Homo sapiens: one gene and its partners. The protein of the gene in region 2 purifies or fractionates together with the protein of the main gene of each other region. This does not show direct contact. Each region holds a gene or a part of one and is shown on either strand. Other genes may lie near its edges. The genes, in order: HIP1R, CEP41, URM1, WARS1 and RIC8B.

Region 1 (4,251 bases), on a different chromosome or scaffold from region 2:
TGGGTACCCGGTCCAGGGCCTGCCCTGCTCCTATGTCCCTGCCCAGGCAGACGAGCACCCCACAGTGCTCCAGAGAGAACCAGGCCAAGGCCCTCTGCCCACCAGGGACATCTCTAACTCCTGAGGTCTTGCAGTGCATCCAGATTGCAGGCCCCCCAGGGCTCTCAGGCCTTACTGTGTGTGTGCTCAAAATGCAGACCTCCAGTCCTGATTCTTCAGCAGCAGGTCTGGGGGAGCCCAGGAACCTGCGCCCTGCCACAGGCTCTCTAACCACCGAGGTGCCCGGGCTGTGGTCTTGCCACATTTCCCAACTCGTGAGGACTAAAGGGCCCGGGTGACTTCGACGCTGGAGGGCCCACTGGTTATGCGTGTGGAGCGCCCTGGGCCAGGCCCTCAAAGGCAGGCAGCATCTCCCCGTGCTGCCCCTCCCACTGTCGCCCCTGGGAAAACCCAGCCACCCGCAGGGAACTGCCCACAGGGAGCCACCCTTCGCTCAGCCCCACACGCTCAGGAAAGCCCCGAATGCCAGGCAGGACCTAGAATGGCTGGACCTACCCACAGGTCTCCAATCTCCCGGATGTTGCTGCGGTACCGCTGGCAGTCATGCAGCACCTGCAGCGCAGGGAATACGGGAGTGGGGGAGTGTCCAGGACCGTGTGGCAGGGCCCTGAGACACGCACTCCCCACCCGAGGCGGGAGGAACAGCCCGGAGCTACGGGGACAGGAACAGGGCCAGAGCCCGCATGTCCGCGGGACAGTGCCCCAGCTCCGGGGAGCAGAGGCAGCAGCTGCTACTCACATTGGGGTGCCCGTCTCGAAGGACCTTGTGGAGGACGTGGCAGAACTTCCAGCTGAGAATGGAGCTGCTGGGCAGCGGCAGCCCAATGGCGTAGGACCAGAAGGTGAAAGCCCCCTTCTCGTGGTGTGTGCCCAGAATGATGCCTGCAATGTCAAGGCCAAGTGTGGAAGCAGAGACTGGAGCACGGGGGCTCAGCAAACCCGGCTGAGAGAGGCCAGGGCCGCCGGAAGAGGGCCGGCCCCCAATCACGTGCCCATCAACCCCGGGTCACCAGAGCTCCAGTGTCCAGCCAAGGGGACAGGAGTTAGGGCAAGACAAGGAAATCATTGGGCCCAATGGGGGCGTTTTTGTGATGAGACTGAGATGGGAAGGAGCCAAGCTGCACAGGACCCTCCTCCCCGGGCTCAGTGAGGGAACTTGTGACCCCGGCACAGCTGACCGCAGGCCACCTGCAGCACTACGCTGCTCCCACATCCACACCCAACTCCTGGGTCCAAGAGCCGGCCAAGGATACGCCGGGCGTGCTTCTCCTTCACGGGGGCCTCCTGGGTGTTGATGGCTTTGCTGATGCTGATGGCCTGTGAGGGACAAAGGAGCAGTGTTTAGAGCCCCAGGCAGCCACCCCAGGAGACACCACCCCAAGGGGGAGAAGCACAATACTGAACAGGATTCTGCCTGGGTTCAAGGCCAGTGGAGCGATGGGGGAGACAGGAATCCCCTCAACCTAAGCTTCTGAAGGACTTCCCTGTGCCTGATCGGTGCAGCTGGAACTACAGTGAACACCAAGAGCTCCAGGAGTCAGGGGACAAGGACCAAAGCTGGGCTATGGCTCCGGGAGGCCATCCTGCCCAAAACCTGCACGACTTGACTCTCCTGGCAGATGTGGTGCCCTGAGCCCCAGGTCATGGCCCAGTGTGGTGTCCTCCGGCCCCATCTCCCCTTGGGGAAAAGCAGCTGAGACTGGAGCCCCCGGCTGGGGCCCACCTGGCCTTTGCGGCACCCCATGAAGGGTGCACATCACATTGTCCCCACTCTCCTGGGAGGCATTCCCAGGAAACTTAGGCAAAGCCCAGGGCCTGTGGCCCACTGCCCCATAGGCTGCCCCTCTCCTGGGTGGGGCCTCACCCTGTCAAACTGTGTCAAGCTCCTGCTGCCACCTGCAGCCCAGCCAGGGGCGGAGGAAGGCAGGAGTGGGGTCTGCAGCTGTCACCCGGAGCTGCGCAAGTGGCACCTTCACACTTGACCAAGGCCAGAATCTCAGCATCCCTCCCGCTCCACCTATGGCAGTCTCACCCCTCCCCCCCCGCCCCGGCTACTGCCTCCTTTTCCGAGTAGGCTTCCTGGACGTGACTGTGCTCTCGAGGAGGGCTCACGGCGGTACCATCACTACAACCCGGCCCTGGCTCCGTGGGGCATGGGGTATTTCTCATGCAGGGAACAGGTCTGCTAAACCTCTGTCCCCCACCACCAATGTTTGTGACCTGAGAAGAGCTGTCCAGGCCATGGGCGGGAGGGACAGGGCCTCGACAGATGCAGACACTGAGATGGGACACGCAGCCCCCAGCCTCAGCCAGGGCAGCTGGGCTCCTGAGCCACAGGCTGGCCTAAGCCAGGCAGGCCTTGAAGGGCAGGGAGCCGGCTTGCAGGACAGTGCAGCGCTCCTGCGCCTTCTCCCCAGACACCACTGCACTCTCCCACCCAACACCGGAGCAGAGGACATCCAATTAGGGTCTACTGTGGAATTTCCTCTGTGAGAAAAGCCAGCCCGGGAAGCTGGGGGGCCCTACCTGGTGGGACCTCAGATGGGAGCTAGGGGACTGCGGGGCTGGGCCAGGCAGCCTCTGGGCCGCCCCCGGCCCCTAGCACGATGCTGACCCCCTTTCACACACAGGGCCCATTGTACTGGACCCTCCCAGGCAGGTGTCCTGGGGCTGCCCTGAGCCCTGCTCCCTGTAGTCGGGGAGGAGCTGCGGTCCCATCTCAAGGAACCACGACCTGAGGAAATGCACAGAGGCTCTGGTGGGCCTGATCCTGAGGGCTGCCCAGCCAGTGGCCCCCAGGCCTCAGCTCCTTCCTTGAACAAACTCGTATCCACCAACTGTGAGAAGCCATGGCTGAGAGTGTCATGCCCCCAGAGGCAGAATATTGCTCACGACAGCAGCTATGATGATAAGGATCCTGAGTGCCCAGCCCCAGCCAGGCATGGGCAACTCGCCTCCCAGCAACAGCCCAGGGAAGTGGTGACTAACCCATTTTCCTGGTGAGGAAACTGAGGCACAGAAGGCTTATATACTTGTCTGTACAGCTAATAAGGATAAAGGCAGTGTTCAAAGCCAGGTCTGTCTGATTCCACAACCTGTGTCCTTAGTGACTCTGAACAGCCCCCAGGCAGTTCCTCCCGTGGGGAGGGGCTCCCAGGGCAGGAGGCAGGGGCTGTGACTTTCCCCAGCTCACTGGCAAGCAGCTGTCCTGTCACAAGCCAGGCGTGTCCGTCTCCGGGGTGTGTAACCCCATCCCCAGCTGCCGACACCTGAGCTGCCACCTGGTTCGGAAGATTCCTGGCAAGAAGGGTGGAGGCGAAGTGACTGGTGCAGACCTGGCACCAGAGAGGCTGTAGACACAGAGATGCGGGGGTTTCTCCTGACACTGAGGAAACCCCGGGATGGGGCTGAGATAGGGACCCTAGAAGCAGAGAACACATTCTGGGGGAATGGGCTGCCCTCTCCTCTTTGCGAGGAAAGACACAGTGAGGCCAAGGTGCAGCCACCCGTGTCCCCAGGCCCTAGGCTCCAGATGCCCACTCAGCAGAGCTCCAGCTCCCCGCACCCGGCACCCTCACACCCTCCTGCAGCCGCCCTGTTGAAATCTGCACCTTCTGGATGGATGGTCTCTGAGGGCCGGGCACCCTCAGACAGTGGAGTGTTTCCTTATTTATCACCCTCTCCCCTCACCCAGCAGTCAGCAACACGAGGGGAAGCAGATCGGCCTATAGGTGCTGCTGAACCCCCAGCTCCTCAACAGTGCCTGGCATGCAAATGACTTTCATGGCAGGAGGGAGGCCCCAGGAATGCAGTGTGACGGGGCATGCCTTGGGCACATGGCATGGTCTCCTGTGCGCCTGGGCCTCAGTGCTGCCTGCTCCCCGCGCTGGCGGCAGGGGACAGGATCCGTGGCAGCAGGGCCCTCCCGGGCAGGGTGCCGGCTGGCTCTGGGAACACAGCCCCGTTGTGTCTAGGATGGGCAGATGTGTGCACCAGGCTCAGAGCGCCACACAAGGAGGCACAGTGCTCGCACAGTGGGAGTCTGTGGCTGCTCCGTGGGCCTCGCCTCTGACCAGGCAGTAGCAGCTAAGCCCTGTCCCGGGAGAAGCCCGCCAGGTCCCAGTGATGTCCCACCTACTCCCGTCTGCTGCTGACCCTCCCTTGCGGAAGTGGCTCCAGGGTTCTGAGGGC
Region 2 (4,251 bases):
GACTTCCTGAGAAACTTGTCTTGAAATCAGAAGTCAAATTCCTGACCTACATCAACCTTAACAAACACATTCCTCTTCAATAAACAGCCACACACTGATTGCTGGGTACTTCAGGATAAAATAAAGACCTTAACTCTCTGTATTCTTTTCATGAGAGTACAACTAGGAGGTTTTATTTTCAACTTGGTATTTAAGAAAGGAGAAATGGAGCCTACCTGTCTTTCTAGCCTTATCTCCTACCCAGCGCCTACTCGTCCCTTAGACCACAGCCAGACTGGATGACTCGATTCCCCAAACATGCCTGGTGTGCTGTCCTCTCCATGCCTTTCACAGGCTGCTCCTCAGCCTGCAACAGCCTCATCTTTAACTTGTACCTGTTGAGATTCTACCCCACTTCAAGGCCCAGTTCCAGTGCCTTGAGGAAGCCTACCTCGGTCTTCTTTTTTTTTTTTTTGAGACAGAGTCTTGCTGTGTTGCCCAGGCTGGAGTGCAATGGCGTAGTCTCAGCTCACTGCAACCTCCGCCTCCTGGGTTCAAGCAATTCTCCTGCCTCAGCCTCCTGAGTAGCTGGGATTACAGGTGCACACCACCGTGCCTGGCTAATTTTTCTATTTTTTTTAGTAGAGACAGGGTTTCACCATGTTGGACAGGCTGGTCTTGAACTCCTGACCTCGTGATCTGCCCGCCTTGGCCTCCCAAAGTGCTGGGATTATGGGGGTGAGGCACTGGGCGTGAGGCACCGTGCCTGGCCGCCTACCTTGGTCTTCTAACTGGAAGTGTCTTTCCTTCCTTGGAACTCTCCCACAACATCCTGCATCTTTCCTGAAGGTACTTTTCAGTCCCTTAAGGGTACAATGAAGGCAGCAAGAAGACACTGGATGCTACTGGGCACACTTAGATTTGTAACTCAGGTCCCTTCCTTATTAGCTGTATCACTTTGAGGAGGCAGCTTAACCTCTGCAGCTTGGGCCTCTCATCTGTAAAGTGTACCTTCCTTCCAGAGTTTTTAAGAAGCTTAAGTAAGAAAATTCATGTGAATTCACCTTGCAATATACAGCCAACAAACGATGGTTTCCTTCCATTCCTCCATTTTAAAATTCTGCCACCTTAGTAATTTTGTGGTACTGTTATCATTCAGCCCACCCAACACACATACATGTGTGCACATGCACACATGTGACTGTCAATTTCATGTAAGCAGAGCTGTGTTTTGTTCACCTCTGCAGTCTCATAGTACTTAATGTGTAGGTACAAAGAATGCTAAAAATATTTGTTGAAAAAAGTAATTAGTATATTAAACACATCTAAAACATTTAAAACTGTAAGTGTTAGAGTCAGAAAACCAGATGGCTTTTTAAAATAAGAATTAACAACTAAAGTATCAGGTAGCATTTCCCTGAGAGTAACAATCTAATTACAAATAGATACATCAAAGTCCCAGTCCCTGGGAACAGACAGCAAATGTGTACAGGGTGAGTGTTTCAGTCAAATGGTCAGCCTGTTATTTTCCCCACACCCTCAATTCTCATTACCTTCCAGCCTTTGAATCTCCTCAGCTGTCACTTCCAGTGTTTGATCAGAGAGGGAAGCAACTTGGATGATCTGATAGAAAAAAGAATGAAATGTGTGGATGTTTGTTTGTTTTTAAACAGACGCAATTTTGTCTTTTACAAAAGACGAGGGAACAACAAACATCAAAGATCTGTTGTTTTAAGAAGCTGTCAGTGTCCTCAACTGAACGCTGAATCTCAGGCCTCCTTCCTTTTGTGTTGGTAATATACTGCAGATGATCATTTCAGAAGAAAAGCACACTTAGAACACTACATAAACTTAGAATGCTAAGAGGAAAATTTAGGACAAGAAACATGAATAAGAGTTTAAAACCACATCTGTATATATCGTGGTCCAAGCACTACACATTATTTCTTGAAAATGCAATACTGACCTAGCATAACATAGAATGGTATCAGCAATTATCCACGCAATGAAGAAGTAAATGTAATAACAAATACACTGATTACAGTGTTTTATACTTCTATACAGTATTCATTTTTAAAGCACTTTTCACAACTTAGCTCACAAGACCCAAGATTCAACTTGAGTTATGCCAGTGGAACTCTTGGAACTGGAAAGACACCTTCTCCATAATTTTCAAATAAAAGAAGAAAGTGACTTGCCCAAAATAACAAAACAGCTCTGGCAGGATGATTTGGAAAAGATCAGTCCAAGAAAAGGGGAAATCACTTGGTTTCCAGAGAAAAACGTTGAAACAATCCAGGATCCAGAATTTTAGATTCTAAATATTAAGTTAAATGTATAAGGAAAAAAACCCCTAACCACAAGTTTAATGAATTAAAAGTAGGGCAAACATTTACTTTATAGAATTCTTATCAAAGAAGAGAGAAACATTTCTCACCATCTTCATGTGAACACACACACCACATACCAATTAATCTTCCCATAGCTGAACGACATACAAAGAATCAGAAGAAACTCCTCTGCAAACTTTCCCTAGAGTTGAATTTAGAAATACATAAAGTGGCACAAATTAGACAGACTTTACTCCAGTGGAAAAATCAAGAAACTTACCAGCTGGGCAAAAGTTGTAACTTTTAGTCTCTTGAAAAGCTCATCTTTTTTGTATCTATAATCTGAAAAATATGGTAAGACAAGTATTTATCTATTTTGCTTTTTTAGAGCTATTCTTTCTAGTTGTCAAGTGACGTGGTCTTTCAAGTTATTTATATGCTTTTACATCTATTATCTCATTTGAGCCTCATGATATCATCAAAATTAGGTGTGGCAGGTAGTAGTATCATCTGTTCAGTTTGTTTCCCTTTGCTTTGTCATTAGGAAGCTTAAAGTTGAATTTATAAGCTACCTTTGGTCTAGTGACTACCCCTTGCCTTTATTTTATTAGTCTACCATTTTCCTTTAACTAAGCTGTCTCTACTTCGACCACATTGTACTCCACGCATTTTTGTAAGCCGCCTCAAATCCTTTTCAGAGTAAAGCAGGGAAGAAATGTCCGTGTTTTACAAATGAGGACAGAGACTCAGAGAGGCTGAGCTGCCCCAGCTCAAACAGCTGGTGAGACGTTCATGCCCCACTATTCTGACTCCAGCTTAAAAAGAAAGCAATATTATTCCTGCCATTACACACTATGCTGAAGCCACAGGACAACATTTCTAAGTGTATGCTGGGCACACAGCTGTGATTGGTTCTGATCATCTCTCAGCTTCTCTCCAACTTCACTCCAATAAAAATTAACCTACTTAGTTTCGCAAGATGAAAAAGTTCTGCAGTTCTGTTGTACAACAGTATGAAAATACTTAATGCCACTGACCTGTACACTTAAAAACCATTACGATGGTAGGTGTTATGTGTTCTTGTTTTTGTTGTTTACTACCATTTTATTTTATTTATTTTTATTTCTCTGTCGCCCAGGCTGGAGTGCAGTGGTGTGATCTCGGCTCTCTGCCACCTCCGCCTCTCAGGTTCGAGGGATTCTCCTGCTTCAGCCTCCCGAGTAGCTGGGATTACAGTTGCCCACCACCAGGCCTGGCTAATTTGTGTATTTTAGTAGAGACGGGGTTTCACCATGTTGGCCAGGCTGGTTTCGAGCTCCTGGCCTCAAGTGATCCACCCACCTCAACCTCCCAAAGTGCTGGGATTACAGGCGTGAGCCAAAGCGTCCGGCCCCACCATTTAAAAAAATAAAATAAAACCAACTTAGGCCAGGTTTGGTGGCTCATGCCTGTAATCCCAACACTCCAATTAATAATACAACTAATAATACAAAATACAACTAATAATACAAATCCCAACTAATAATACAAAAATTAGTTGGGCATGGTGGTGCACACCTGTAATCCCAACTACTCCAGAGGCTGAGGCATGAGAATCAATTGAACCTGGGAGGTGGAGATTGCAGTGAGCCAAGATTGCACTACCACATTCCAGCCTGGGTGAGAGTGAAACTGTGTCACAAAAAAAAAAACAAAAAAAAAACTTAAAACATCAATATTTATTCAGTGCTGTCTTGACAATTCTGAGCTATAACTCACATATAGGTACTTCTGCACTTGTGTTCATAATTCTTCCCATCACATTAAACAGTTATTAAAAACTAAGCCAGTTGCACTTTATCTATTATCTGTTCCATAGATACGTGTTAAAGGTTAGCTTCCTTAAACTGTTTTGAAGATGACAGTCAAATTCTGAATGGTTTTCAGTGTTGAACTCTGCCCG
Region 3 (4,251 bases), on a different chromosome or scaffold from region 2:
CCCTTTCTTTCTTAGAGACAGGTTCTTACTCTGTCGCCTATGCTGGAATGCAGCAGTGCAATCATAGCTCGCTGTAACCTTGAACTCCTGGGTTCAAGAGACCTTCCTGTTCAACCTCCCAAGTAGCTAGGACTACAGGTGCATGCCACCATATCAGGCTACTTTTTATATTAATATTTATGTTTATATTTAATTTTATTTTACTCTGTTTAGTCTCACTCTGTTGCCCAGGCTGCAGTGCAGTGGTGTGATCTCAGCTCACAGCAACCTCCGCCTCCCAGGTTCAAGTGATTCTCGTGCCTCAGCCTCCCGAGTAGCTGGGACTACAGACATGAGCCACCACATCTGGCTAAGTTTTGTATTTTTAGACAGAGGGTTTCACCATGTTGGCCAGGCTAGTCTCAAACTCTTGACCTCAGGTGATCCGCCCACCTTGGCCTCTCAAAGTGCTGGAATTACAGTCATGAGCCACCGCGCCTGGCCCATATCAGGTTAATCTTTAAATTTTTTGTAGAGATGGAGTCTTGTTATGTTACCCAGGCTGATCTCAAACTCCTGGCCTAAAGCAATCCTCCCACTTCAGCCTCCCAAAGCACTGGGATTACAGGCACAAGCCACTCTGCCCAGACCCAGTGACCAATTCCTAAATATGACTTCTAATGTGGCAAGGTAGGATATAATTTTTACTAATAATCAAGTACCGGCTAGGTGTGGTGGCTCACACCTGGAATCCTAGCACTGTGGGAGGCCAAGGCGAGATGACTGCTTGAGGCCAGGAGTTTGAGATGAGCCTCAGTGAAATAGAGCCTTGGTGACATAGCAAGACCCTGTCTCTATGTAATTATTATTATCATTAGGCACCCGGGAAATTATTATCTATTTATTTTTGAGACAAGGTCTTGCTTTGTCACCCAGCATGGAGTTCAGTGGCACAATCACAGCTCACTGCAGGCTTGACCTCCTAGGCTTAAGCAATCCTCCCACATCAGACCCCCAAGCAGCTGGGACTACAGGTGCATGGCATCACACTCAGCTAATTTTGTACTTTTTGTAGAGATGGGATTTCGCCATGTTGCTCAGACTGGTCTCGAACTCTTGAGCTCAAGTAATCTCCCTGCCTTGGCCTCCCAAAGTGCTGAAATCAGAAGCATGAGTCACTGTGCCTGGCCTATTTTTATTATTTTATTTTACTTTTTAAAAAAATTTATTTATTGAGACAGAGTCTCGCTCTGTCGCCCAGGCTGGAGTGCAGTAGTGCGATCTTGGCTCACTGCAACCTTCGCCTCCTGGGTTTAGGCAATCCTCTGCCTCAGCTTCCAGAGTAGCTGAGATTACAGGCACGTGCTACCACACCTGGCTAATTTTTGTATTTTTTTTTAATAGAGACAGGGTTTCACCATTGTGGCCAGGCTGGTCTTGAACTCCTGACCTCGTGATCCACCTGCCTCAGCCTCCCGAAGTGTTGGGATTACAGGCGTGAGCCACCGTGCCTGGCCTATTTATTTATTTTTTGAGACAAGGTCTCACTCTGTCACCCAGGCTGGAGTGCAGTAGCGTGATCTCAGCTTGATACAACCTTAACCTCCTGGGTTCAAGCAAACCTCCCACATCAGCCCCCAGGTAGCTGGGACCACAGGCACGTGTCACCACACCTGCCTAATTTTATTTTTATTTTTTGTAGAGACAGGGTCTCCCTATGTCGTCCAGGCTGGTCTTGACCTCCTGGGCTCAAGCAATCCTCCCAAAGTGCTGGGATTAGAGTTGTGAGTCATCATGCCTGGCTCTGTCTCTAATTATTTAAAAAGAAAAAAAAAAAATCAAGTACCCAAATTTGCCGACTCTTGTTTTTACTCCTCTGCCTTCTAGAGAGGCAGCTTACCACACAGGTGCAGAACACAGCCTTTGGAGCTGCCGGCCCCGATGTGAAGCCCAGGCTCCACCTCTCCCTATGTTGAGACCTTAGATGTGTGACTCAATCTTCTTTTTTCTTTGTTATTAAAATACTTTGGGGGCCAGACACAGTGGCTCACACCTGTAACTCTAGCACTTTGGGAGGCTGAGAGGCGAGGGAGGATTGCTTAAGTCCAGGAGTTCAAGAGCAGCCTGGGCAACATGGCAACACCTTGTGTCTACAAAAACTACAAAAATTAGGTGGGCATGGTGGTGTGCGCCTGTAGTCCCAGCTACTTGGGAGGCTGAGGTGGGAGGATCACCTGAACCTGGGAGGTTGAGGCTGCAGTTAGCCAAGGTCATGCCACTGTACTGCAGCCTGGGCGACACAGTGAGACCCTATCTCAAAACTAATAATAATTTAAAAATATTTTATAACATAGTGAGGTCTCACTCTATTGCCCAGGCTGGTCTTGAACTCCTGGGCTCAAGCAATCCTTCTGCCTCAGCCTCCCAAAGTGCTGGGATTATAGGTGTGGGCCACCATGCCTGGCCTTGACTCAATCTTAAGCTTCAGTCTTTCCATCTGGAAAAATGTTGGGGAGCCACTGTGAGGCACTCTGGAGACCCTGTGCATCTAGGGGTTTCCTCTGGCCAGATGATGGTTTGAATGCTCCTGCCCATGCCACCTGCTGCTGACCTGGTGGGTACATCACAGTGCTGGAGGCTGAGAGAGTCCATGAGGCCTGGCATCAACTAAGAACAACTGTTCACATCGCCTCACCATTTATAAGATGTTCCTCATCTCATTTCATCCTCAGGGAGTCCCAGGGAAGAAGGAAGGAGGTAGATATTATTTGCTCACTTTGATAGAAAAGCAGACTCAAGCCTAGAGAGGTTAAGCAACCAACTTGTCCAAGGTTAGAGAGGCAGGGGCTGAACTATAATTTCAGTCTAACTGATTCCTGCTTAGCACCAGCAGACTGGTCAGAAAAAAACAGGACTTCCCAAAGGTCAGAAAGCCTCTTGAGGGCAGAGTTTGGTTCATTTCTGTGTCCCAGCACCTGGCCAAGGGAAGGCGGGGACTGCAGAGATGATTGGAGCCAAGTCCAGAAGCTGAGGCTTCTGAGATGAGCGCCAGGGCTCTTTCAGCGCCCCATGCTGCTTCTCCCTCTGGGTCTCCCAATTCCCATCTCAGACTTCTTGTGGATCTTAACTGAAAAGGCCTCACCAGACTTTTGAAGAATGAGATGTCTTCCACCCCACCACCCTTTCCCAATTTCAGGGAACAGAGATGTCCTGAGACAGCCCGCTGGGAGGCAAAGGCAAGGCAAGCATTGTCATGGGGAAAACATGGGGCGACTGTCATCCAAACAAGGTCACGCTTTGTTGATGCAGAAATGTGGAGGGGGAGAGGAGGCCCATCTGTGGCCGCGCACAGGGCCATTTCAGCTGCAAGCCTGCACAGAGCCTCCATTTATTCCCTTCCAAGAGCCTCGTTTTCTCCTGGGTGGGGGGTTGGCACATGCAGCAGCTGGGGTGGGGGAGGGTGACAGGCAAGGGGCTCAGGAGTTGGGGGTCAGAGAAGAGGGATGGGAACTGAAGGCACTGGGACTTAGGCAAACAACCAAGACTGGCCAAACCTGGTGGTGCCAGGCTCAGAGGCCGAGGCTGTTTTTCCCTTTACAAGCGGATGAAGGGAGAACCAGTCTCGCTCAGAGAGTGACCTGTCACTGCTGAATTCACTGGCCCTCAAGGGAGGGGTTGGCATTTCTGCTGTCAGCACATCTGGAGTGGGGGAAGGTGCATGCCCAGCCTCAAGAGTGATTCAGGGAGGCAGACAAGGGGCCTGTTCTAGCCCAGGAGAGACCAAGGCCAGACTCTCTTATGTCTTATAAGATCTGCTATTCAAACTCAACTGACATATCTCCATCTTCCTTCAACCCCCCCAATTCTTGGTGGATGTGTTTGTAGATACCAGTGACAGGTATAGATATTCTCAAAACCACCTTCACCTTTTCTGATGTATCTTCATCTTTTAATCTTCTGTATATACACATACATATACACGTATATATATATTTTGTTTATTTACTTCCTCTCCACCTGCTGGGCTGCAAGCTCTGCCTAAAACAGGGCCTGGCACATGGTAGACACTCAACAAATATCTGCTAAAGGAAAGGAAATGCCCATTTCTCCCAGTTCTTCTCTGACCTCAATGACATTCCCTCCTTTTGCCAATACCTCCCCAACTTGGGAAGGAGGAAGAGGGGTGGGACGGAGAGAACTCCATATCTGGGCCTTTACAACATGGACCACAGGGACACAAAACACAACTATATTACATACTTTGAATCCTGC
Region 4 (4,251 bases), on a different chromosome or scaffold from region 2:
GATTACAGGCGCCCACCACCATGCCTGCCCAATTTTGTATTTTTAGTAGAGATGTGGTTTCACCATGTTGGTCAGGCTGGTCTCGAACTCCTGACCTCAAGTGATCCACCCGCCTCGGCCTCCCAAAGTGTTGGGATTACAGGTGTAAGCCACCGTGCCCGGCCATCAGTTGTATTTCTATATAGTAGCAATGAACAATCAAAATGAGATTAAGAAAATGCCATTTAGAATAGCATTAAAAAGATAAAATTCTAATGAATAAATCTAAGCAAAGAAGTGCAAAACCTATACACTGAAAATTACAAAACATCAATGAAAGAAATCAAAGAAGTGAAAAGACATCCCATGTTCATGGATTAGATGAATTAATATTTTAAGATGGCAATACTCCACAAATGAATCTACAGATTCAGTGCAATCCCTATCAAAATCCTAGCTGCTGCTTTTGCAGAAATGGAAAAGCTGAAATTCATATGGAAATGCAAGGGGCCCAGAATACCTAAACAATCTTGAAAAAGAACCATGTTTGAGTACTCACATTTTCTTATTTTTTTTTGAGACGGAGTCTCACTGCCACCCAGGCTGGAGTGCAGTGGCGCGATCTCGGCTCACTGCAAGCTCCGCCTCCCGGGTTCATGCCATTCTCCTGCCTCAGCCTCCCGAGTAGCTGGGACTACAGGCGCCCATCACCACACCTGGCTAATTTTTTGTATTTTTAGTAGAGATGGGGTTTCACCGTGTTAGCCAGGATGGTCTCAATCTCCTGACCTCGTGATCCGCCTGCCTTGGCCTCCCAAAGTGCTGGGATTACAGACATGAGCCACTGCGCCCAGCCAAGAATAGTCTTTTCAAAAAACAGTGCTGGGACAATTGGATACCCACAAGCAAAAGAATGAAGTTGGAGCTGTACCTCACAAATATACAAAAATTAACTCAAAAAGGATCAGAAACTGAAATGTAAGAGCTAAAACCACAAAACTCTGAGAAGAAACCATAGGTGTAAATCTTCACAACCTTCGATTAGTCAGTGGTTTCTCAGATATGACACCAAAAACACAATCAATCAAAGATAAAATAAACTGGACTTCATCAAAATTAAAAACTTTCATACTTCAAAGGACTATCAGTAGAGTGAAGAGACAACCTATATAATGGGAGCAAATATTTGCAAGTAATATTTGAATAAGAAACTAGTATCCAGAATATAGAAAGAACTATTATAACTAACAATAAAAAGACAACCCAATTAAAAAGTAGGCAAAGGATCTGAATAGACATTTCTCTAAAGATATAAAAATTGTTAATAAGCACATGAAAAGATTCTCAACATCCTTGTCATTAGGGAAATACAATCAAAACCACAATGAAATACTACTTCACACCTATTAGGATGGCTATAAAACACAACAACATGGAAAATAACAAGAGTGGGTGAAGATGTGGAGAAATGGGAAGCTTCCTATGTTGCTGGTGGGAAAGTAAAATGATACAGTTGCTGTAGAAAAGTCTGTCAGTTCCTCAAAGAGTTAAACATGGAATTACTATATAAGCCATTAATTCTATTTCGAGGTATATGCCCAAGAGAATTGAAAACATATATCCACCCAAAAACTTGTATACAAATGGTCAGAGCAGCATTGTTGATAACCAAAAAGTGAAAATAACTCAAACGTCCATCAACTAATGAATGAATAAACAAAATGTGAGGTATATCCATTCAATGGAATATTATTTGGCAATAAAAAGGAATCCAGTATGGATACATGCTACAACATGGAGGAACCTTGAAAATGTTATGCCAAGTAAAAGAAGCCAGACACAAAAGGCCACATGTTACATGATCCCATTTATATAAAATGCCTAAATCTAGATATAGAGAAAGCAGACTAATGGTTGCCAGTGGGGAGGGAGAAATGGGGGATGACTGTTAACCCATTTATGCCTACCTACTGTTCCAAAATTGGAATGCTAAACTTGTGGGAGTTATTGATATCTTACTGCTCAAGGTGATTGCCAAGGTCTGATTTTTCACAAAAAATTTTTACAACTTCTGGCATAAATGGGTTAATGGGTAGAAGTTTCCTTTTGGGGTGATGAAATGTTTTGGAATTAGATAGTCTTGATGGTCTCACAACCTTGTGAATATACTAAAACCCACTTAACTGTACATTTAAAAAAATAAGTTTTATAGTATGTGAATTAAGGAAAATTTTTTATTATATTCCACCCAGAAAGTGGGTTGAGCAAGGCCTGGAGTTCTTTGCAGGTAGAATTTGAAGTGTTTGGGCAGACTGCTGGGCTCTGTCCTGGGGTTGTTCTCCTGTAAGCGTGAAGTGCCAGTAGAACAGAACAACCCTACATCAGATCATAAATTCCATGGACACAGCTTCAAAAAGGGGGCTGCCTCAGCCCAGATAACTGTAGGTTGGGAGAGGCAGAAACTCTTTTGGAACCTGCCCATATCTTGACGTTATCTGCGTGGAATTTACGGCCTAAGGTACAGATAATCTGTTCCATGCATTCTCTGTTGGTTTGTCTGTTGGTATTGTTTATGAGCAAGTCAATACAATAGGAGGAAGAGGGTTTGGAATTTCAGGAAGCCTACTGTTTGTCATGTGGGAAATGCTGATCTTGGACATATTATTCTCTTTTGTTTTCATGACATTTTATAATTTCTTTACAGCCTGTAATCTGGGAAGAATCTCACCTGCTATTAATATGATTCCCACCTTGTGAGGTGGGCAGTCTACAAATGAAAAAACTAAGAGCCTGAGGGTGATGGACAAGCATGATCCCACAGTGGGTTACTGACAGGACAGAGGATGGATCTCAGTCTTACCACAGCTGGCCATCACTTTTCCCACAGTACCAGGTGGCTTATGAAGAGAGTGTCTTACGATTTTTTTGAACTAAAAGAAGAGGACAGGTGAGAAGGCCTGTGGTGAAGAGCCCCTGACCTGTGTGAGAAGAAGATGCCTCTGCGCAGGAAGTGGTGTGGTCTTTGGCCGGTGGCTCTCTCTATTCGGTTTATTAGCTCTTTGTCAATTTTACTACTTCCAAACCGAACTGGAAAAAAAGAAAAGATGACTTTCTTAGGTGGCAGGAGGTTTAGTGATCAGATATTACTGAAATGAAGATGAAAAGTGAGTGATCCATGCACAATCTTAATGAACACAAACCTCTTTAGGCCTTCTGCTAAAGGTCCTTACCCCCAACATGAAGTAAAAGGTCTTTGGATTAAAACAACAGCTGAGATCAACACAACCAACAAAACAGGAAATAAATTACAACACAAAATGCTGTTTTGCCTGAGACTGGGTTCTGATGGGAAACATATTCAGAATGCAGTCCAGCTAGCAACTTTTGACAACAAAATATAAACATATACATATATAAATAGGTATATATATATATATTTGTTTATTAAGGTAAAATTTATATTCATTGACAACCATGATTTCTCACATTCTTTATTTGTTGAACTGAATTAATGTCGGTCTTCAAGTGAATTTTCCCTCATTGATAGTCTATACTGAAATCATGGAAAATGGCTTTGACTTAGATGAAAACATTTCAGTTCTGTTTCTTCTCTGATAATTAGCAATGATCTCAGAGTAAAGACTTCAATGGAATGGCAACAGTCTTTCCTGAGCAGGAAGGCCCTCAAGGAAGGGCATGACAGTAAGAACTTGCCCGATGTGAGAAGTCACTGCTCTTAAGCTGACTTCCAGCCTTCTAGGTCCATAGTCAGTATCACTGGAGGTGAAACCTAAGTAATCTATGATTGACTTGTAGCCACTAAATGTTATAAATGGCCATTTCAATAGACCTTTCCCAAGTTCTGAAGTGCTCAAAAAAAGGGAAAACCTTCTATTAAGCTGTCTACTATAGATCATTATTTTGAAATATATTTTATATTGTTATTTTATTTTAAAATAATCCTTTGGGAATATAATGCACAACCAAAAGATTTTAGTATCCATTTTTTCTTGGCATTGAAGCTTCACTGAATTTATGATTAATTCAAAATTTAAAAACATCAATGGAATCAACTCAATGGGACCACTTCTAAAAGTTGCAGCTTTTTCTGGGAAGAAAGCAGAGGACGTACCAATGAGCTTATCGTAGTCTATGCCTTTTGCACTGCTTGTCTGTACTGTCCATGGGTCCACAAAATCCTCTTCAGCTTCTGTGGCATCTGGGCCATGATTACTGGTAGGTGCTGGGTTCCCTGGAGGACAGTCAGCCTTG
Region 5 (4,251 bases), on a different chromosome or scaffold from region 2:
GTTCAAATGTCATCTCAGAGAGGTCCTCCCTTGTTCCCTTAAAGTGTCTCCTCTCTCTTAAAATGCTTTACCTTTCTTCAGAATGCTTATCACCACCTGCCATTATATTTTAAATTTGTTTACTTTTTGTCCCCCTCTCTACAAAATAAACTTCCCAAGGGGAAAGACTTCATCTGTTGTTCAATGCCCAAAACACAGCACACACAGCAGATCTCGGTAGCATTTGCTGAATGAATGACTCAAAAAATACACACTTCTTGATTAAGAAGATTTCAAAGATTAAGACTGAGTTTCTGATTATCTGAAACAAAATCATTGTGAGAAAATTCAATTAATTCTATGTTTAAAATGCACATAAAAAGACTAACTTTGCAATGTAATATGCATTAAGCAGTTACCTGATCTTTGAGAAATTTTCGGATGTTTCGATGGGCTCGGGAACATTCGGTTAATAAGCTGAGAACTGGAGTTAGACCCTCTCTATAGCTGCTTCCCTATAAAAAAAAAAACCATATGTTTTTGAAATACGTTAGTTTTGTTTCTAACAGTATTACTTTCCTTCATGTAACTGAGGATATCAATTTGTTTTTGAGGTGGGGACTTTTTTTTTTTTTTTTTTTTTGGGAGAGGGAGTCTCCCTCTGTTGCCCAGGCTGGAGTGCAGCGGCGCAATCTCGGCTCACTGCAAGCTCCACCTCCCGGGTTCACGCCATTCTCCTGCCTCAGCCTCCTGAGTAGCTGGGACTACAGGTGCCCACCACCACACCTGGCTAATTTTTTGTACTTTTAGTAGAGATGGGGTTTCACCATGTTAGCCAGGATGGTCTCGATCTCCTGACCTCGTGATCCACGAGGTGGGGACATCTTATGTTACCTAAGCTTACAAACTATTTTAAAAATTCTTTTCCTAAAAACATTTCCATTTTATCATCTTCATGTTTACTATTGCCTTTTTTGGTCCTTCCTGGATGTTCCTACATTTTCTAGGATTCCCATGGGCTTAGCCAAAGGGCTTGAATGAAGCAAAATTTTGGTGACTGGACTATGCTACCTTGCTGCCTTTTAATACAGATACCTGACAAAGTGAGTGATAGACCAGAGAATGTATAAACAGCTCACAACAAATGGGAAATTGACAAGGTCTTCTTTTTTCTTTTTTTTGGGAAGATGTCTTTTAGGTATTATGAAGAGTATTTAGCAAGTTTTTGGGGGGATATTTTTTATTTCTAGGACTCACAAAGTAACAAAATGGAACAGTAATTACTTTTTCCTTTGTTTTCAAGCACTAGTCATAATTTTGGTGTTGCATGAACATAATTTTCAGCATTAAACAAATAAATTAACATGGCTTCAGCAATTTATCATATATTGTAATAAACTGCTTTCCAAAGTAAAAACAATTATGCAGCACATCAGTCAGAAAAAAAGCTTAGATTTAAAAATCATGCTCTGTGATGTGTGTCTGTATGTATGGCACATTTACATTCTTTGGAAGCATCTTCCCAGGGCTTCCATTTTATCAGCCTTACCTTGTCTATTCTCTTCTCCATAAAATTCAGTAAAACATGAATGGCCTCCATATTCATACCATTGTATACCATGGTATTGTTTTTCAAAACTGTTTCTTTCTCAGCTGTTTTATTACTGGGCAGTTCATCTAGAGTCGTTGCCTCTTGGGCTGTTTCTTCATGGGTTAACGGACAAATGAGAACATCCAAACAAGAGACTGGAACATTGCTTAAAAGGTTGACTGCATTGCTGAAAAGCAATTAAAAAAATACAATATTTTAACTTGATTGAATAGTCCTTTAAAATGCAAACATAATAAGAAGTTCAAAAGTGACTTTTAAGAGTCAATTAAAATATTTCTTTTCCAAAAATGAGCCATTATGGACACTTGACACTTACTATGAGATAGGAAATAAAAAACTGTTTCAAATATATGTTGTACAAATTAGAAAAAAAACAAATGTTGAATAGACAGACACAATCACATGATGTCATGTCACTTTCTGAAATGCTAAAATAGGAATTAGTGAGCTTTAATGCCAGCTCCTTAATTTTATTATGGCAACAATGCTAGCTTTGCATTTCTTCCCTGGGATTTTAAATCCTTTTGTGGATCCACTGGTGTTTTATTATTCCTTAGATTACAACATAAAGCATTTGAGAAACACTGAAAATAAGCAGCTTATCAGTAGCAACAACAATAAACCAAATATGGTAGAATTAAGTTTTATTCTTTCTAAATGTAGAAAATACAATTTAAAAATCATCCCAATTTTTGTAAGACATATGCAGAAAAAGGGAAATGGAGTTTTTTCTCTCTTTCTTATCATCAGGTCTCTAAATGAAGTTAATATAGCTATTTCTAATCTCTAGCCCCTAGGCCTTTCAGCTGTGTATTAATGAATACACGAGACTGGGATGCACACCAGTAGGGGGAACCCAAACCTTATATTTTTGGCATTCCCTAAAAACCTTGTTCTGTTGTTCAGTGTACAAAAGATTAAAATGACACTAACAATTTCAAAATTAGATATGTTCTCAACAAACATATTTTCTTCCATGAGTTATTTCATATTCTTTCATCTAAAAGGAGTGGTGGTGTTCTGGGCTAACTGGCTCTTATATGCCTGTGCCTTAGAACTTCCTGATCAACAATGGAAAGACAGGCATTTTATTTCCTAGTGACAGAGAAGCAGATCTAAAAATAACCACATCCTGACTAAAAATAAACTCCTGCAAATGCAATTTAAAAGTCCAACCACTTGGAAACCAAATTTAGAGCTTAATCTATCTGATACTATCTTAATTTAGACCAGTAGCTCCTTCTACTTTAGATTATAGTGACACCCTAAAAAATAAAGCAAAACAAACAGAAAAACAAAGAAATAGAAATACAAAAATTTTTCTTTCCTCTACCCTGAATTGTGCTCCACTTCCCCAAGAATGAATATTTCCTTTCTTTTTATATTATGGAAAAATAAAAACCAGTAACAAGTCAGTTGAAAAGTTAGACAATGCAGAACAGAAAGTGGTAATGTATAGGGCATCAAAAAAATGAATCAAGAGCAAAAAATAATTTAACAAGTCATATGAATAAATGGTTCCTAGTAAAATACAAGTTATTTGATTGCCCTCACTAAAACCAAATACTGCTGCTGCTACTGGTGTTATGCACAAAATCTCTATATTTGGTTATTGGTAAATAATCAAAGGTGGCTGAAATATAAGCTTTCCCCAAAACTTTCTCTTAAAACTTTTTTTTGCAAATATCTGTAGTTTATCTTATCTATAGTTCAGAACGTTTTGCTTCTATCTTAAGCACTTAGAAATTGTTACTAAATAATACCATAGATTCATTGAGAATAAAAGGGGGGAAATAACTCTACCTTAGAATTATTTTCAAAAACTGTATACAAGCCATTCTGAAATGTTATGATTTTTTCCCTAAACATCAGGCAATAGGCTCTTAAATACACTGACCGTATGATGCTCTGAACCTACCAGAGACCAGATTGAAAAGTTTCAGATGGGTCATTTCATTACAAAGGAATGTTTCCCCTTTAAATTCGTTTAAAGTAAGCAGTTTCCAGGAATTCAGTAAATTTAAGAAACCAAATGTAGAGTTTGATTCAACAAATATTTGGAGGTTTTAGGCTTTTCAAGAAAAGTTCCCATTTTCTTATTTCTTATTTAACAACTTGGTTTCCAAACAACTACAAAATTAATTTTTCTGGCTCACTGTGTTTGAGCTATTCTTTTTAAGTAAGGAAGGCCAGCTTTTTGAGCTCTGTCACTTCTCTGACAGTTTTATTTGTGGTAGAAGAGTGTATGAAATTCTCCAGCTACCAGGAAGTCAGTGACTATGCACAGATCTGCACAATAGTGTTTGCATTCCTACTCCAGGGGGTAGAAATACTGTGTATATTACACTCCCCTTTTCAGCTTCCTAGAGATCATTAATCACTGAGACATGACATCCTCCCGCTCATGCTCCCAGCCCCCTCCTGATATGCAGATTCAAAAGCAAGACCTATTTAGAACTCCTTAATGCCCTGATTAAAGCCTTGTCAGTTGTGGGAGAGGAAAGGCAATCTAAAATCTAGTCCTCTGTGAATCGCTGGACAAAAACATGAAATTACACTGAAGAACATGATATGGCACACGTAGATCCATAGCTGTTAATAAATCTTGCTGGTCAAATGTATCTTCTTTATATTTGGGGCTTACATATCTTTTTTCAAGG

The links.
Region 1: the proteins of CEP41 (region 2) and HIP1R fractionate together in Homo sapiens (co-fractionation; one large-scale study listed by BioGRID). This does not show direct contact.
Region 3: the proteins of CEP41 (region 2) and URM1 purify together in Homo sapiens (affinity purification with mass spectrometry; one large-scale study listed by BioGRID and IntAct). This does not show direct contact.
Region 4: the proteins of CEP41 (region 2) and WARS1 fractionate together in Homo sapiens (co-fractionation; one large-scale study listed by BioGRID). This does not show direct contact.
Region 5: the proteins of CEP41 (region 2) and RIC8B purify together in Homo sapiens (affinity purification with mass spectrometry; one large-scale study listed by BioGRID and IntAct). This does not show direct contact.

What each region holds. Positions count from the first base shown.
Region 1 is NC_000012.12:122,845,157-122,849,407, reverse strand, and holds part of HIP1R (huntingtin-interacting protein 1-related protein), read right to left. Parts: intron 1,378-4,251; coding exon 1,314-1,377; intron 943-1,313; coding exon 800-942; intron 613-799; coding exon 556-612; intron 1-555. UniProt on the Homo sapiens protein: Component of clathrin-coated pits and vesicles, that may link the endocytic machinery to the actin cytoskeleton. Binds 3-phosphoinositides (via ENTH domain).
Region 2 is NC_000007.14:130,409,590-130,413,840, forward strand, and holds part of CEP41 (centrosomal protein of 41 kDa), read right to left. Parts: intron 2,652-4,251; coding exon 2,590-2,651; intron 1,603-2,589; coding exon 1,533-1,602; intron 1-1,532. UniProt on the Homo sapiens protein: Required during ciliogenesis for tubulin glutamylation in cilium. Probably acts by participating in the transport of TTLL6, a tubulin polyglutamylase, between the basal body and the cilium.
Region 3 is NC_000009.12:128,373,623-128,377,873, reverse strand, and holds part of URM1 (ubiquitin-related modifier 1), read right to left. Parts: intron 1-4,251. UniProt on the Homo sapiens protein: Acts as a sulfur carrier required for 2-thiolation of mcm(5)S(2)U at tRNA wobble positions of cytosolic tRNA(Lys), tRNA(Glu) and tRNA(Gln). Serves as sulfur donor in tRNA 2-thiolation reaction by being thiocarboxylated (-COSH) at its C-terminus by MOCS3.
Region 4 is NC_000014.9:100,357,597-100,361,847, forward strand, and holds part of WARS1 (tryptophan--tRNA ligase, cytoplasmic), read right to left. Parts: coding exon 4,112-4,251; intron 3,067-4,111; coding exon 2,958-3,066; intron 1-2,957. UniProt on the Homo sapiens protein: Catalyzes the attachment of tryptophan to tRNA(Trp) in a two-step reaction: tryptophan is first activated by ATP to form Trp-AMP and then transferred to the acceptor end of the tRNA(Trp).
Region 5 is NC_000012.12:106,840,095-106,844,345, reverse strand, and holds part of RIC8B (chaperone Ric-8B), read right to left. Parts: intron 1,758-4,251; coding exon 1,529-1,757; intron 495-1,528; coding exon 399-494; intron 1-398.